Linked DNA regions of Homo sapiens: region 1 is linked to region 2. Evidence: fine-mapped expression QTL. A gene starts in region 2. The other region holds a variant in brackets. All regions are shown on one strand. Distances are from middle to middle. Region 1 overlaps PDE4DIP (phosphodiesterase 4D interacting protein). Region 2 holds the start of PDE4DIP (phosphodiesterase 4D interacting protein).

The links.
Region 1: its variant is fine-mapped to the expression of PDE4DIP in whole blood (TOPMed, PIP above 0.99).

The regions. Positions count from the first base shown.
Region 1 is chr1:149,020,443-149,028,782 of GRCh38, reverse strand. PDE4DIP (phosphodiesterase 4D interacting protein) reads right to left here. Exons shown (of 47, transcript NM_001395426.1): 40 at 7,630-7,754; 41 at 4,099-4,338; 42 at 1,952-2,068; 43 at 1,156-1,382; 44 at 80-223. Among named protein-coding and RNA genes, the nearest start is that of NBPF9, 79 kb to the left of the region's middle. The variant C/T (reference allele first, on the strand shown) is at 3,300.
Region 2 is chr1:148,839,782-148,848,121 of GRCh38, reverse strand. PDE4DIP (phosphodiesterase 4D interacting protein) reads right to left here and starts at 3,694. Exons shown (of 47, transcript NM_001395426.1): 1 at 3,328-3,694. The coding sequence starts at 3,347. RefSeq lists enhancers at 2,801-3,523, 3,524-4,245.

The DNA.
Region 1 (8,340 bases), 180 kb before region 2:
CTGTGACATTGAGGAGACAGAACAGTATTGGAGGGCAGGAGAACTGGGTTTGAACCAAGAAAGGGCACTGGCATCTTACCACTTTGCCAGGCAGCACAGGGATGTGGGTGCTTGGCAGGGCCGCTCTCCAGAACATGGTGAGGAGGGAAGCTGACTCCTCTAGGGCATGGTGCAGGGCACTGGTGCTGCTCCGAAGCTCATGAATACCTTTGCTGCCTAGCACCTGGGGAAAGGTAACACCACAGGAGCGGAGAGATTACTTTCTTCCCCCTGCATGGGCTCAAGCTTCCTTTGTGAGTGAGGCATAGAACATGGGCCTGCTTGAACCTGTGAAGCCCTCACACAACCATTTGCAGCTCTCAGAACTAAGGTGCTGCTCCCTTTACCAGGAATGCCTTCCTCCACCTGCAGAACCCACAAGGCTTTCAAAACTCACCCCCCTTGCTATGTCCTCTATGAGCCTGTTACCTTCCTTGCCTGAGATAAATGACCACATTTGTATTGGAGCTCTCACAGCACAGAGGATGACTTCTCATACTGTGCCTGTAGCCCCTTACTGTGCTTATCTACTTGGGTGTGTGTCTTGCCCTCTAGTGTGGGGGCTCCGTGGAGGCAGGGCTGTCCCTACGCATCCATGGGTCTCCAGCAGCTCAGACAGCACAGCCACAGGTTCCTGGTCTCTCTCACTGGCAAGGTGCTCTCAGAAGCTTTGCTGACTGCCTTCCCTCCCTCTATGCAGTCTGCACAAGGAAATGACATGGCTGCCAGGCTTCTCACCCCTTCCACATGTGGGGGCCATACACCTGCAAATCCTTCAGTTTCTATCCATCCCATTGAGTTGACTCTGCCCACAGATGGTCATGTGCCTGCATGACTATGGTAGATAATAAGCTACCAAAGGCTGCTAGGCAATGCCACATGTTTCTGTGGGGCTGAGGGGAAATATCCAGTCAGCTACATCTGGAACAGAGCAGAACTCACAGTGAAAATAGGAGATAGAGAAGAAAGGGCCTGGCTGCTATACATGGAAGAGGAAGTCTCAGCTGTTGAGAGATGCAAAGCATGAAAAAAACAAAAATGGTGGGAGAAGGAGTTAACATCAAAGGAAGAAAGGGCACAGGGAAAGAGTGCACCTAAAGCTTCAGGTGTGATTACCTCTGTGCCTTGGGCTTCAAGGCCAGGGAAGCTGCACGCTGATCTCACAAGAGACACTATCTTTTTGACCAGCAGCTTGCCCTCCGCAATCTGCTGTCTTAGGGCACTGTAGTCATCAATGTGGCCAATGACATGGCGGCCATGCTTATTGGCAAAGGAGCCATCAGTAGCATCACCCTCTAGCTTGGGAGGGGTCTTCATTACTGGAGAAGTATCCAAACCCAAGCCTGAAAAAGAAAATGACAACACAACAGAATCTTCTGTTATTCATAATGATATCCTCAGTTTGCTCCAACTAAAAAAGAGGTAGGGAACAAGAAAAGGACGAGGCCGGGAACAAGAAAGGAAGCCTGGGAATGTACAAGGGTGGGGCAAAGTCCATAGAGATCTTCTGGCTTCTATATTTTTATAATCTTTCTTACATTATCTCTTAATGATAAATTTGCCAGGAGACAATTTTTTCCTTATTGGCAAATGAAATAGGATGAATCATAATAAATAATAAGTTTCTGAGTAGAGAAGACACAGACAAGGAAGTCAAGCTGGATACAGACAGCATTTTCAAGAATAGAGAGATTATGGTGCAATGAAGCAAAAACAGCAGTAGGAAAACTACAGGAGGATGAACAATGGCAAGAAAGGCAGCCACAGAAGGTGCAGGGAGTAGGGCTAAAGGCCTTGGGGCATGCAGAGAAAACTCTCTAAATACAGATAATATGTTTAGAGACAACAAAAGGTTGTTTGCATTAATCACTTTCCATCATCAGTCCCTGGGCCCTTTAGTTGCCATATTTACCATTTGCTCTGTTGATTATGGGCGTTTCTGAGCCAGGAGTAGAGGAAGCAGAGCTGGGGAAGACCAGAGCTGGGGAATTCATACCAACATCCCGGACTGGAGGGGACACAGCTGAATCTAGGGGGTAAAGGCAACCACAGTTTTCAGGAGCCCTGGAACACACTGCACATGAAGCACATGCACACCTAGCTGTCCCCACTGAGACCTAAGGTGGCAGGACTCTCCTCTTACAGAATTATCCATACCCCACAAGCCAAAGCAAAATCAAAAGCCTATGAGTCACTGAGTTCAGAATGTTTCCATTCTTCAGAACAAAAAGATATTCCTGTAATTGAGGGGTGTTCCATGAGAACGTAACTTCTAGTTTGAAAAATTATTAGGTGTATTTTTATAAACCGAGTCTTAAGTATAATTTGTGTGTGGTATCTAATATGATGCCCTGTAACTAAATGTAATATGTATAAATATACATAGTACATATTAAAATCTAGAATCAAAGAATCAAGGAATGAATGGATTCATGGGGGACTCAACATTCTAGTCATCATTCTGATGAGGTAATACTGAAAAAAATTGACTTGTATGAGAAGAACGGAGACAGAAGGCTTGGTGGGTTAACATTGTCTTGCTGGAGACTAAAAAGCAACCCTATGGTGGAGGAATTGGAAAATATCACAAAGAAGGTAGAAAAGGTCCTGCTCAGGCAAGTGTGGCCCAGTGCCTGCTTTCCAGCTCAGGCCTCCGGGGTGCTAGAGAAAGAGGGGCAGGGACTGCATCAGTGGGGCTGAGTCTTGGCTGCTGTATGGGAAGCCAGTGAGAGAAGAAGGCCTGGTTAGAAGGAAGAGTTGGAGACATAACTGAACACCACAACCATCAGGGCAGCCCAGAGGAGGGCAAGGTGTCCAACTAATGTAAGCTGAGCAGTGCCTGGTGGTCAGGCGGTTTGCTTGGTGGACCACATGTGTTTTTTTATTGAATTGCCAAAACAGCATAATCATGTTATTGTCACCTTCATTTGACAAATAAGGTTACTGTCAGATAAATGAGAATCTACAAGAACCACAGAAAAACAAAGATTAACATGACCCAGAAATAGCTGGCAGGAGAGTTTGAAAGCTCAGCTTTAGAGAAACTGAACAGAAGTGGTTCCTGATTTGAATAAAATTGAAGGTATGGCCATGGAGGTGAGTGGAGATGGTGTACTAAACGGTGTATCAAAAGGAGAAAAGGACAGAGGAAGTAGAAATTGAATGATTTAAGAGACTAGGGGGACACCATTGACATTTCAATGAAAACTGGGAGAAGTGAGATTGATAGAGGATATTGAGAAGGGGGACCTGGTCAAACA[C/T]GCCTATCTGAAAAGGCAGGCAAGGGGTGGGGTAGAGAAAGCGAATGATGACCACCCGAAATAAATCACCCACCATCCAGGACTTCCCCAGAGCCCTGTTTCCTTAGGGGCAGGAACATTTTACCATACACTGAGTTCCCCACCTGTGAGGGAAAGGGGGACTAGAGAATCTGGGAAGGTCGGCAATACTGAGACAGGGCACAATGAGCTGGAAGGAACACAGACTGAAAATCACAACATCTGGTTCTGATCCTGGCTTTGTCTATAACTTCTCTAAATCCCCGCTTGTCTGTTAATATCTCAGGACCTAAGTTTTCTTATGTGAAATACAGAGATAGCAAAACCTGCTTTACTTCAGATGAAATTATATATGTGAAAACACTTGGCTAAAACTAAAGCACCAAGCAAATCCAAGAAAAAGATATGAACATATACAGCTGCTAATTATTGAGTAATTCTTAGTGTGCCAAGCACTTGTAAATGATTTCATTTAATGCTCAAAATCATATAAGGTACATATGATCATTATCCTCATCTTAAATATAAGGAAACTAAAGCTTAAACCTCTGAGACTTTAGACACCTTGCCCAAATCAAACGACCTCTAAGTGGTAAACTCAGAATCTGGAGCCCAGTCTGACCTAAATCCCACGCTTTCACTCAGGTTGCTAGACTAGAGCATCTCTGATTTCAACCTGACCCTAAGGAGCATGGACCAGGCAGATTACACCTTCTGCCGCAGAACTTCCTGGTGATCTCCCCACTGGCCAAGGGCTTTCTAAGTCCCTTTTCCTTCCTACCTTGGAGGAGCAGCTGCTTGTTTCCAGGGTCAGTGCTGGCTGGGAAGTTCTGGTTAATGGAGGAGGGGCTGAGGCTGGCTTTGCCAGCACCGCTCTCCAGCTGCTGTTGCAGCTGCAGTCGCAGACAATTGTTCCCCTGAATGCTCTGCTCCAGCTGCCCTCTCAGAGCTCGTACCTCTGCCACCAGGTGGCTCAGGTCACTGCTCAAAGGGATTTGGTGACAGGCATCCAGGCTGTAAGCTGAGAGAGAAGGAGTCTGGTAACATTGACCCAAGTATTTCCAAGCACTTGTCAGAACCCTCCTCTGTGACATTCTTTTCTGCCAAGGACCCCACTATCATCTGAGTCTCATGCAACCCATCTGTGATGGAGATGTCACCATTTCTGTGTGTGGCCTGGGGATGGCACTGAGCTGGCACACATCCAGTCTGAAACTTCCCTGCGGCTTAAGTTACACACATGCACCTATAGAGCATTTGATTGGCAGATGAAGATAAGTCCATATTTCATCTCCATAGTAACCTTAATCCTGTAGGCTAAAGTATAGGATACTCCAAGGTAGAAGGTCAGCACTGAGCTAGAGAAGGGTAGGGGATGAGGAAGAAAGAGATTTCATAGTCCTCACTCTCAAAAATGAAAGAGAAGGAGGAGGTCTTTTGGTAGCATGTGAGAATGTGAGTTGGGCACCTTAGACGAGGGATTATAACTGAGTTTTTCAATTTCTCTCTCTCTCTTTCTCTCTCTCTCTCTATATATATGTGTGTGTGTGTGTACATATATATACACCTACATATAGTGTGTTTATATATGTTGTGTGTATATACATACTATATATAGGTGTATATATGTGCACACATATACATGTACATATATATGTGCACACATATACATGTACATATATATGTACACACATATACATGTACATATATATGTGCACACATATACATGTACATATATATGTGCACACATATACATGTACATATATATGTGCACACATATACATGTACATATATATGTGCACACATATACATGTACATATATATGTGCACACATATACATGTACATATATATGTGCACACATATACATGTACATATATGACATGTACACACATATATATACATGCACATATATATAAATATATATATGTATATATATTTACCTCCATTCACCACATGGCTATTTCTTTGTACTGGGGATGAAGAGATCTAAGAAATATTCTACGAGGCTACAATCCCTTATCTGAAAACCTTAAGGCCAAATGTATTTCGAAAGGTAAAATTTGTTTTAGTTTTTAGCAAGGCAACAGGGTGCATATATCATATATAACATGTACCCAGTTGCATGTGAGCCACAATCCTTTATCAAACATATAACTATTTCCGCAATGAGCTATGTGAATATTCTAAGTAGATAAATAAAGACTTATGAATATCCTCATGTCAGATCATCTAGATTTTGTCACTAAATGAGTATTTGAAAAATTTAATTTGGAAATCTTACTGGATTTTGAAATTACAGATAAGAGATTATGGAGCTTTAGTGGTTGTAGCTTTGAAATGAGTCCTAAAAGGCAGGGAGAAAAGCATGAAAGGAAAGGTAGCTCAGGATGAACCAATTTTAGGGACTTTGGTAAATAATCTACTCTTGAATTTTGCCCAAAGTTTTATGATGTTCCTCTCTCTCTTTCTCAACCCAACTTCTCACTAAATTTTGCTTATTTTTTAAGAGATGTTTTAAAATCTATCTATACCCTTTCATCTTCCCAATAGCACCTTATATTAGACTGTCATCTCTTAATGTGCCAGAATATCACTAGACCCATCCAATACGTTTCCCAGATTCTAATGTCTCCCAATTCCAGGACATCCCCTAAGACTTAGCATCCTAAAGTTCTGTTTTCATCATATGCTTATCTTCTTTGAAAAAGAACAGACTTAGTTTCATTATCTACTATACAGAATGTCAACTTTTACCCTGACCTGTGAGCTTTCAAGATTTGGTGACTCTGCTCCACCATCCTGACTTCTCACTCCAACCTCAAGCTTCTCCTGTGGTCAGGCTGGTCCCACTGACCCAACACTCACCATGACTGTGTACTTAAATTATTCTCCCAGCCTGGTGAGCCCCCTCTATTTCTTCAGGTTCCAGTTCACCTTCTCTTTAGAAAATCAGGAAACTAAATCAGGATTTATGATAATTCTAATCTAACTTCCACTGCCCTTCACTCTTTGTTTAGCCTTCTGGAGGGACATAAAATACATGAGTTCTTTTTCACCTGACACTTCTTCAAATATCCGAAGCCAGTTCTCATGTCCTCAAGATCTTTTGAAAGCCTACATTTCTTTAGTTTCTTTGACTAGTTGGAGATTTCTGGTCCACACCATTGTGCGCCCTGTCTTCATTATGTTCCCTAGTGTGTCAACGCCCTTTTCAAAGATGGTGCCCCTTAATCTAACAATATTTTAGACATGGTCTCCACAGGCGAACATCACACTTACACTACTGTAGTTCCAGTTTGAGCTGGCATTTCTAGCAACCTTTGTCCTACACCTTACTTGTGTGAACATGTTTCTACCAAACCCCAAACCCTCATGTCCATGAATGGCTGCCTGTCCTATATTTCTACCCTCATCCTATATTTCTACCACTGATATTTTTAATCAAGCTCAGGATTTTGCTTTTTATCTTTGCTAAATTTCACGACATTGATGTCGTCCTCTGTTCCAGCCTGCTGTGACTTATTCACATTATGTTTTGAATACCCTTCTCCATTTAAAGAATGAAGAAATATATCAAAATTCTCAAATATTAGATTATTATTTCAGCAGGCAGCAAAGTCTTCAATAAATGTCCTTAATATTTAAATCCAGGATTGAAATTTAGGTCCTATTAGTGGTATTTCTATAAGGTTTTTTTGTTTTTGTTTTTGTGTCTTTTAATTTTCTCCTGTGGGCAGGCTGGTCCCCACTGACTCAACACTCACCATGACTTTGTACTTAAGCTATTCGCCCAGCCTGGTAAGCCCCTGTATTTCTTCAAATTCCAGTTCACCTTCTCTTTAGAAAATCAGGAAACTAAATCAGGATTTATGAAAATTACATGAGAGGGCAATAAGCTGAGCGCCAGATGTCACTAGGGAAAGGGTCAGGGTGGGAGCGGACTGCCTGCTGCATTGGGCTGAATGGGTTGTCAGTATGTATCACCGACAATATTAAAGGCCTTTTCAAATGATGATATCATTAGGACAGTTCTTTTGCTTTCAAAAATGTTACAATCTAGACATTGATAGGAATGTCTAGATTTTCTTAAAGTAATTAGGAATGATCAGGCCGGATCTTGCTCGTGCCACCAACCTGTCCCGTTGGGCTTTGTGTTTGAGAGCTCCTACTGGGAGCCCCAGGCTCGGGTGGGGGTTTCTGCAACAGAACTCTGTAGCTTCCCATGATCTCCACAACTCCCAAAGGAAAGACCTCACTAGCATCCTATGCAAGGGCAAAAAGCTCATGGGGTGAGGGGAGAAGAACACATACCTTTCAGCCCCTTCTTGGAATTGCCATAAAGTGCCTCGTAGATTTGTAGCTCTGACTGGAGGGACTCAAAGAGCTGCTGTTTCTCTTCACACTGTTGCTGCAGGAGAACCAGCTTGTGCTGCAGTCTGACCAGGGAGAGGCAAGGCCCACTGAGATGGCAGAGCTACTCAGCCACACCAGAGCAACAGGCTGAGAGCCAGATGTCAACTCAGAGGGTCATAAAGGGTTACAGTTAGGGTTACATCTGAGCCCCAGATGTCAACTCAGGGGGTCATGAAGACTATCACTTTTATTTCGCAGATATGGAAATGGAGGCTGAGGGAGGTCAAGTAACTTTGCTTGAAAACACACCATTACCTACATTAGTTCAGAGCAGAACAGACACACCAGCACAGTCTCCTTACTGTTCCTACAGTGCTCTTTGCATTCTGACAAGCAGTTACAGGGCTTATGCTGGGACCAAGCATCACAGCCAGTATAGAAGCTTCCTAGGTGATGGTGAGACTAATGTCCTATATCTAATTGGAAGCATGGGAACCCTTCTTTTTCATGTCTCTGATATACTGAAGACTTCTATAACAGAGTTTTACTCTCTCAACTTGGGAGTGACAAGGCATTCCCAGAGAAGTCCTTTCTTCTGCTCAAAGCGCCCCTCCCCCCACCCCACTGACACACAAAAATCAGGAATAGCAGAGGGAACATTTAGGTTTC
Region 2 (8,340 bases):
TATATTACTTATTGTGAGTAGTGGTTAAAAAATATGTGAACATTCTGAATGGTCCACCTTGCCAGCATTTGCTACTTTCTATCTTTTTAATTTCAGCCATTCTGATATGTATATAGCAGCATGGTGTTGTGGTTCTAATTTGCATTTCCCTGATAACTAGTGATGTGGAGCACCTTTTCACTATGTTCTTCCCTTTGGATACCCTCTTTTTTTTTTTTTTTTTTTTTTTTTTTTTTTTTTTTTTTTTTTTTTTTGAGATGTAGGCTCGCTCTGTCACCCAGGCTGGAGTGCAGTGGTGCGATCTCGGCTCACTGCAAGCTCCGCCTCCCAGGTTCAGGCCATTCTCCTGCCTCAGCCTCCCGAGTAGCTGGGACTACAGGTGCCTGCAACCACGCCGGGCTAATTTTTTGTATTTTTAGTAGAGACGGGGTTTCACCGTGTTAGCCAGGACTATCTCGATCTCCTGACCCCGTGATCCGCCCGCCTCGGCCTCCCAAAGTGCTGGGATTACAGGCGTGAGCCACCGCGCCTGGCCTGGATACCCGCTTTAGAAATCTCTTTTGTAATCTGTTTAAAAAAAAACAATCTGGCAGTATTTACTAAATCTGAACATGCATTTCCTATTACGCAGAAATCATACTTCTACTTATTTACTCAACAGAAATGTGTACATATGTTCATCAAAAGACCTGTACAGAAATGTTCATAGCAACACTGTTTATAATAGCTCCAAACTGGAAATTGCCCAAGTGCCTATTAAGAATAGAATGGACAAATAAATTTGATATATTTATACACTATAGAAGCCTATTTAAAAGCAAGAATAAATGGACTACAGTACCATATAACAGTATAGAACTCCAAAAGCAAAAGATTGAGTGAAAGGAGCCACGTACGAAAGAGTACATGGTGTATAATTTCATTTACATAAAGTTCAAAACTAGGCAAAATTATTCTATGGTGTTAAAAATTAGGATAATGATTATCCTTGAAGTCATCAGGAGGGCTTCAGGGATGCTGGTAATGTTCCCTTTCTCTATCTGAATGCCCATCCCATGAGTATACTCAGTTTGTCAAATTAATTGGACTGTAAATATATAATTTGCGATTTTTCCAAATCATTTCTGAATTTGTCTGAAATTGTTACATGTAAATATAAAATTTTTAAAACTTAATAAATAATACTTTTTTCTTCAAGTGTGAAAAACACTGGCAGAGAGCAAAAGGCCCTGATACACTCACTCCCATCACCATCAAGTGGTCATCTAGCCTTTGCCTGAGTAACTCCAGGGTCAACAATCTCTTTACTGCCCATACTGCCCAGGCAGCTAACTTGTTAGAAAGCTTTTTTTTAATTTTTTTTTGAGACGGAGTCTCGCTCTGTCGCCCAGGCTGGAGTGCAGTGGCGCGATCTCGGCTCACTGCAAGCTCCGCTTCCCGGGTTCACGCCATTCTCCTACCTCAGCCTCCCAAGTAGCTGGTACTACAGGCGCCCGCCACCACGCCCGGCTAATTTTTTTTGTGTTTTTAGTAGAGACGGGGCTTCACTGTGTTAGCCAGGATGGTCTCAATCTCCTGACCTCGTAATCCGCCCCCCTCAGCCTCCCAAAGTACTGCAATTACAGGCGTGAGCCACCTCGCCTGGTCTTTTTTTTTTTTTTTTTTTTTTTTTTTTTTGAGGCGGAGTTTCGCTTTTGTTGCCCAGGCTGGAGTGCAATGGCTTGATCTCGGCTCACCACAAACTTCTCCTCCCGGGTTCAAGCGATTCTCCTGCCTCAGCCTCCGGAGTAGCTGGGATTACAGGCACGTGCGACCACGCCCGGCTAATTTTGTATTTTAGTAGAGATGGGGTTTCTCCATGTTGGTCAGGCTGGTCTCGAACTCCCGACCTCAGGTGATCCGCCTGCCTCAGCCTCCCAAAGTGCTGGGATTACAGGCATGAGCCACTGCACCTGGCCAGAAAGCTTTTTCTTTACACTGAGCCATAACTCGCCTCCCAACAACTCGCTTGCATCGGTTGTTCTGTCCTCCTAAGAGATTCTAATGTGATTCAATCCCTCTACCACCAATAGCTCTTCGGAAATTTGAAGGAAGCTACCACATCCTCCCCACTCCCAGTCGTCATTTCTCCGGACTCAGGAGTCCCAGGTCCTTCCTTTGGCCATCCCTCAAGGCATGGCTTTGAGTTCCCTCCTGTCTCTTGATTGTACTTATTTTATCTAATGATGCCCAGAACTAAGCACAGCCCTCTCGGAGAGGCCCAAGAGGAGCAGAAAGGAGCCAAAAGTAAAATCATCACTTTTGATCTAGACAGAATCTAGACAGCCTACTTCTTCTGTCAACAAACCCTAAGCTTCAATTTGCTCCTTCTTTAATATTCACATTATACCATTCACTCCTGTTGAGCTTAGCAATCAACTAAAAGCACCCAAGTCTTTTGCATAAGCCCCAAATTTACCTTCTGTGTTTGTACCGTCTTCACTCTCTCAGGAGTCAGAGCGCTCATTTGGCCCCACCCCAATTCTCCAAAGCTAAATCCCACAGATGGAAGCGTATCTGTTATAGAGACACCGCTGGAATAGTCTCCCTACCCTCCCACCCACTAAAAAACAGAAACGAAGTCTTTGTCTCAATACATGGTCTCTTATCCTTACCCTTTCCTTGAATGGGGCTTCATTTTAAAGTGTGTCTGGGGGAAGGACTGGAAGAAAACGCAGTTTCACAGGCCATCTCCAAAATCTGACCTAAAAGCCAACTGTTGCCTGGCCTCAATAAAGCCTGAGCAGTGTGGTGCCCTGATCTCTTTCCTTCTCCATTCCTCCCCCAAGTGGGCTCCAACTGGAGGTTGTGGAGATGAGTGCTGCTGGGCTCTGCTCACTCAGTCCCTTTGCCTTTGTGTGAGTAGTGACAGATGAGGCTGAGAAGGAAAACGTGGCAGGGTGAGAATAAACCTGATATTGTTCAAAGCATCTGACATCAAACATATCTCTCAAGAAGACCTACTGGAATCCCTCTAGCCACACGAACAAGGAAACGACAGAGAACCATTTCTACAGAAAGTTCCAGGCGGCCTCCCTGGGTATTTTTAACATCAGGACTCGGTGGAGGGGAGAGTCATTAAGCAAGGGAAACCCCGTAAAACAGAACATGTGAAAATGACCAAGAGAGGTGGGCTGGGAACCAGGCAGGGCGAGGCTACAGAAAAGGGAAGCTGTCACGGGACCCTGGTGGTGAGGGGCGACCTCTCTCTCCCTAAGGGCGCTGGGGGAGGGGAGGGAGGAGGACCACCAAGTCTGGAGCGCGGCGAGAAGGAAACAGCCCACCTACCTCGTCCAGGTCTGCTCCATTTTCCAGGCTCTTTCCTTAGTCTCAGGACGCTCCTCACCCGGGAGGGGAAGCAGCCTGGGAAAATGAGAAGCCTTGCCCACGAATCTCCAGCGCAAAAGGCAGCAGCTTTTTCCTCCCCAGCTCCTTTCTGCGTCGGCGGCGAAGAGAGAGCTCTGCTCCCTGCTTTTTTAGAAAATGGATTTGACGTGGCCGAACCTGCGGCTAGCCGTGCGACCCGCACAAGGGAGGGACTGTTCTCAGTAGGAGGCTGGACTCAGAGCGGCGCGGCGCCCGGGGCTGTTTCGTGAGCTGGAGCCAGCGGCTGCCCGGGCCGCGGTGCGCGCACTCTCCAGGCTGAGACACGACTGGCTGGCACGAGTTGCTCGGCACCAGCTGAGCTGTCAACCGCGAGCGGAGGCGGGGCTCCCGACAACCAGTGTGCTGGGGCAGAATCGGCCCAGGTTACACGCCCCCTGAACCACCCTCGCGTCTCCCCGACCCCTCTCTCGCTGGCTCAGATGAATGATGACGGCAGAGGGCAGAGAGCTTAGAGGACGCGGTACCAAGCCCCGTCCCTCGCCCATCCCAACGAAGGTCTTAGAATACAATCAACCAACTACAGGAAGAATTTGTAGAGGAGGTTTTCTTGTGTGTCTGCATCGCCCCACCCACAGGTAACCCCAGAGCCAGAGATGGAGTCTAGGAAGGTTTAGGAGCAATCCCGGCTGAATGCAGATGTATACCCTACGTGGTCATGGAACACGATGTTGTCTTCCTAGAGATGTGACATGCCAGTTTCACCATTAATCCAGGGACAGGACCCTTCATCAGGAAGGGAAGCATCCCAACAAAACCTTACAGCCCTATTAGCTGCCTGTATCCCAGACATCTCCTGTTTTAGGGTATTCTACCTCCTCGTTTTTCAGTTTCGCCAGCAACTGGGCTCTACCAATAGCTTCAAGGAGGGAGAAGCTTCCTGACTCCCAGAACACTAGAAAAGCCTCAAGACAGTAGCCATCAGGACCTCGACACTCCCTTGTGACTGTTTTAAGATCATGGAAAAGGCCTCTTTGGAGATGGCATTGCCTCAGGCCCTGTACCATGTACTTATGTATCAAGATTTAAACAAGGCAGACATACTATAATTAGAGTGCTTGCCACCCTGAAGCTCCTTTTTAGCTTTCAAATAAGACCGTTTTATTAAATGACATAATCACTGTTATTATTAGCACTATCACTGACCTTTTTTTTTATCTGAAAAAGGCTTTATAGTGCCCACATGTGGCAATGTTAATTTCGTTGTACTTGTTTCAGAGATGATAAATTTGAGACCCCAAAAGGCCCAAAGTCTCTGCTAAGGTTCTGATACAGGCTGTGTTCTCCATTGGGTGGCCCCAGAGATATGTTCCCTGAATTTCTAAAGCTACGACCCACAAGACTTCTCCAGGATGAATTTATTCTTTCAGGCCTCCTAGGCATTTAACTCAGGAAGAACCTGGCATGCCTGGGTATTGGTGAGACTGTGGGGAGTCTGTGTTCTTGGGGGAACCTGTCATCTGTCTGTTATCTCTTGGATTGGTTCCCCTACATACTAGTACAAAGTAGGGGTGGGGAGGGGAGGATAACAAAACATTTGAAGGTTTAGCAGAACTGTCTAAAAAGCCCCTAGTCTAGACTCCTCCAACACTTGATTTATTGGTAGGACCACACTGCTCCAGAGCTCAAAATGTTACCAGGAAAAATTTCAAGGTCCAGTTTGATCTTAGACAAGGCTCACAGGCCACCTGTCTTGAAAAGAATATCCTGTTGCCTCTGATGGGGGGGAAGAAAAGGCAGGGAGAGTCAGATTCCCATCCTTCATACCAAAGTTGGGGCTATATTTAGCTTTGTCTCAAATCAAATTATGGGCTACCGAGTTGTGGAGAGGAACTCTGTCTACAGGCAGCTCACTGGATTCAAGAAATGATAGCACTAACTAGGTGAGCTGTGGGGTCTCAGAAGTGACGCTAGAAAATACGTTCATGTATTTTTAAAATAACTTTTTTCAAAAGTTTATAGCACATTCATTGTAAAAACATTTGAAAAATACAGAAAGTTATATAGATTACTCAGAATACCCAGGGATCTTCAATATTAAAAATGTGTTGCATTTTTTTCCCACTCTTTAAAAAATGCATCTTTTAATCCAAACACCAACTCTTTCTTACACACATGGGTATATTCTTGAGAAGAGAAATTTCCTTGTTGTTTTAAAAATTATACTTATTGTCAAAAGAACAATTTTTTTGCGTTAGATTTCAGAAGAAAAATATTCACCCATATAACCACTGCTACAGCACAAATGTTTAAATTTCTCCAAATTCCCTTTAGTCATTATCTATATATATTAAATATCTATTTACATAATTACGATTACAGCTTAGGTATATGTTTATATTCTCCTTCTTTCACTTAGTAAATATTTGTCCATGTTTTTAGGGAAAGTTCATAGTTATTATTCTAATGAGTGTACAATATTTTATAATATTAGTAGGACCATAGATTACTTAAAATATTCTACTATTGCATAGTTATGCTGTTTCTGATATTAGACTGTTATAAATAATGCCTTAATGAAGAGCTTTCTGCCTTTATCATTCTCCTTTTTTGAATTATGCTATGGTTGAATGTATGTATGCCTTCAAAATTCATACATTGGTACTTAACACCGAGTGTTATAGTACTACAGGGTGGGGCCTTTTAGGAATATGTCTTAGGAAGTGATAAGGCATGAACACTCCACTCTCATGAATGGGATTAGTGCTCTTAAAAAAGAGGTTGAAAGGATTGCTCTGGTCCCTTTTGTCCTCTGTCCCTCCAGCCATGTGAGGACACAGCATCTGTGGCAACAAGGAGCCATCTTGGGAGCAGAGAGCAAGCTCTTCCAGACACTGAATCTGCCAGCACCTTGATCTTGGTCCAGCCTTCAGAACTGTGAGAAATAAATTTCTATTATTTACAAATTACCCAGTCTAAGCTATTTTGCTATAGCAGCAGGAATGGACTAAAGGCGATTTTCCTGGGATAAAAGGACTTTCTAATTTTATTATCTTAGCCTCAAAAGCACTAGAAATTCTCCTTTTATTTTTTTTCTTATTTAATTTGTAAATAATTGGATAGTTATATTTTAGTTCTATATCTAGCTAGTATACTAATAATGTAACACCATCTCATTTTGCTTTACGTTTCTTAGAATACTAGCTAGTAAGGTCTTATTTCATATCCTTTCTTGGAAACCATATGTGTAGTAGCCAGTCTCATGAAATCCTTGTGTTGAGTCACTGTATTAGTCATCTTTTTGCTGAAACAATGCTGCTCAACAAAGAACTCCCCAATCTCAGTATTATACAACACACATCCATTTCTCCCTCAAGGATCTATAGTTTAGGTATGGATTGGTTTAAGTCTGTCATTTTCATGGCAGAGTGCAGGAGTGCAAGAGAGTTGGCAGAGACTCATGATGACTGGTCTCTGCTCAGAACTGGCACAGTCTCGCTTCTGCCATTTTCCGTTCACCAAAGTAAGTAACATGGCCAAGTCCAAAGTCATTGGTGCAGAAAAGTACAGTCTGCCCACAGAGTGCAGGAGGGGAGAGTAATATTTGTGGAACAATAATGCAATCCACCAGTCACTGTATGTGCTGCTTTCTTGCTTTTTGTTAAGCTTTTCTCCTTGTAGATACATGGTAACTTTATTCTTCCTCATCCCATTTTAACTTAGCTATGACTTTTGAACAGTGAAATGTAACTTGTTTCGTTGGCTGAAACGTGAGAGGAAGTCTCATGTGGTCACTTCTGGGAAGAACGCAGACATTTTTAAGAGCTAGTACATAATTGGCCCTTTTCAGTTTCCGCTGTTTTATTGATCCTTGAAGATCAATAAGATGAAGCTTTCATCAACCTAAGTCCCTGAGTTACTGTGATGGTCAGAGCCTTCCTGCTAACCCTAATTGAACATGTAGAATGAGCAAGAAATTCATTTTTGTTGTATTAAGTTACTGAGATTTGGAGATTATTTATTACTGGAGCATAATCTAGCCTATCCTAACACATTGCTTTTTATTTCCATTTTGCAACCAAGTATCGTTATGTGTGTGTCTGCTCTCAGTTTTCTGGCTTAGAACTCAAATAACCGGCCGGGCGCGGTGGCTCACGCCTGTAATCCCAGCACTTTGGGAGGCCGAGGCGGGCGGATCACGAGGTCAGCAGATCGAGACCATCCTGGCTAACACGGTGAAACCCCGTCTCTACTAAAAATACAAAAAATTAGCCGGGCGAGGTGGCGGGCGCCTATAGTCCCAACTACACGGGAGGTTGAGGCAGGAGAATGGCGTGAACCTGGGAGGCGGAGCCTGCAGCGAGCCGAGATCGCGCCACTGCACTCCAACCTGGGCGACAGCGAGATTCCGTCTCAAAAAAAAAAATAAATAAAAAGAACTCAAATAACCTGGGTAAATGATGTTGATAAATTAAACTATTCATTTTATTCTTTCCTGAGGGCACTGCTCTTAGTTTGGTCAACTGATTGTGCTTCAGGGAATACCTGAATTGATGATAAGGGACAAAAAATCGGAAGGTGTCACAGTCTTTACAGTCAGCTCCAAATATTCCAATGATACTTTTACCTTTCATTCAGTTTTTAAAATTCATTTTCCTTTTCTTCTCTCCAACTTGTTTCTGGGTAAAAAGGATTATTGATGTTGATATAGTTTACTGCATAATCTATACATCAATAATAAAAATAGCTATGTCTAATATATTTTTGCCAGATCCTCCTCTAACAATTGTGTGTATACTAACTCTTTTCATCCTCGCAGCAGTCTTTTGAGGTAGGCTCTAGTTAATGCCCACTTTACAAATGACTAATGTGGAGCACAGGGAGGTAAATTATACTGCCCACATTCACAAAGCTGATTGATGGCAAAGCTGAGATTTGAAACCAATCAGTTTTGTTTCAGAATGGCCTGCCTAACCA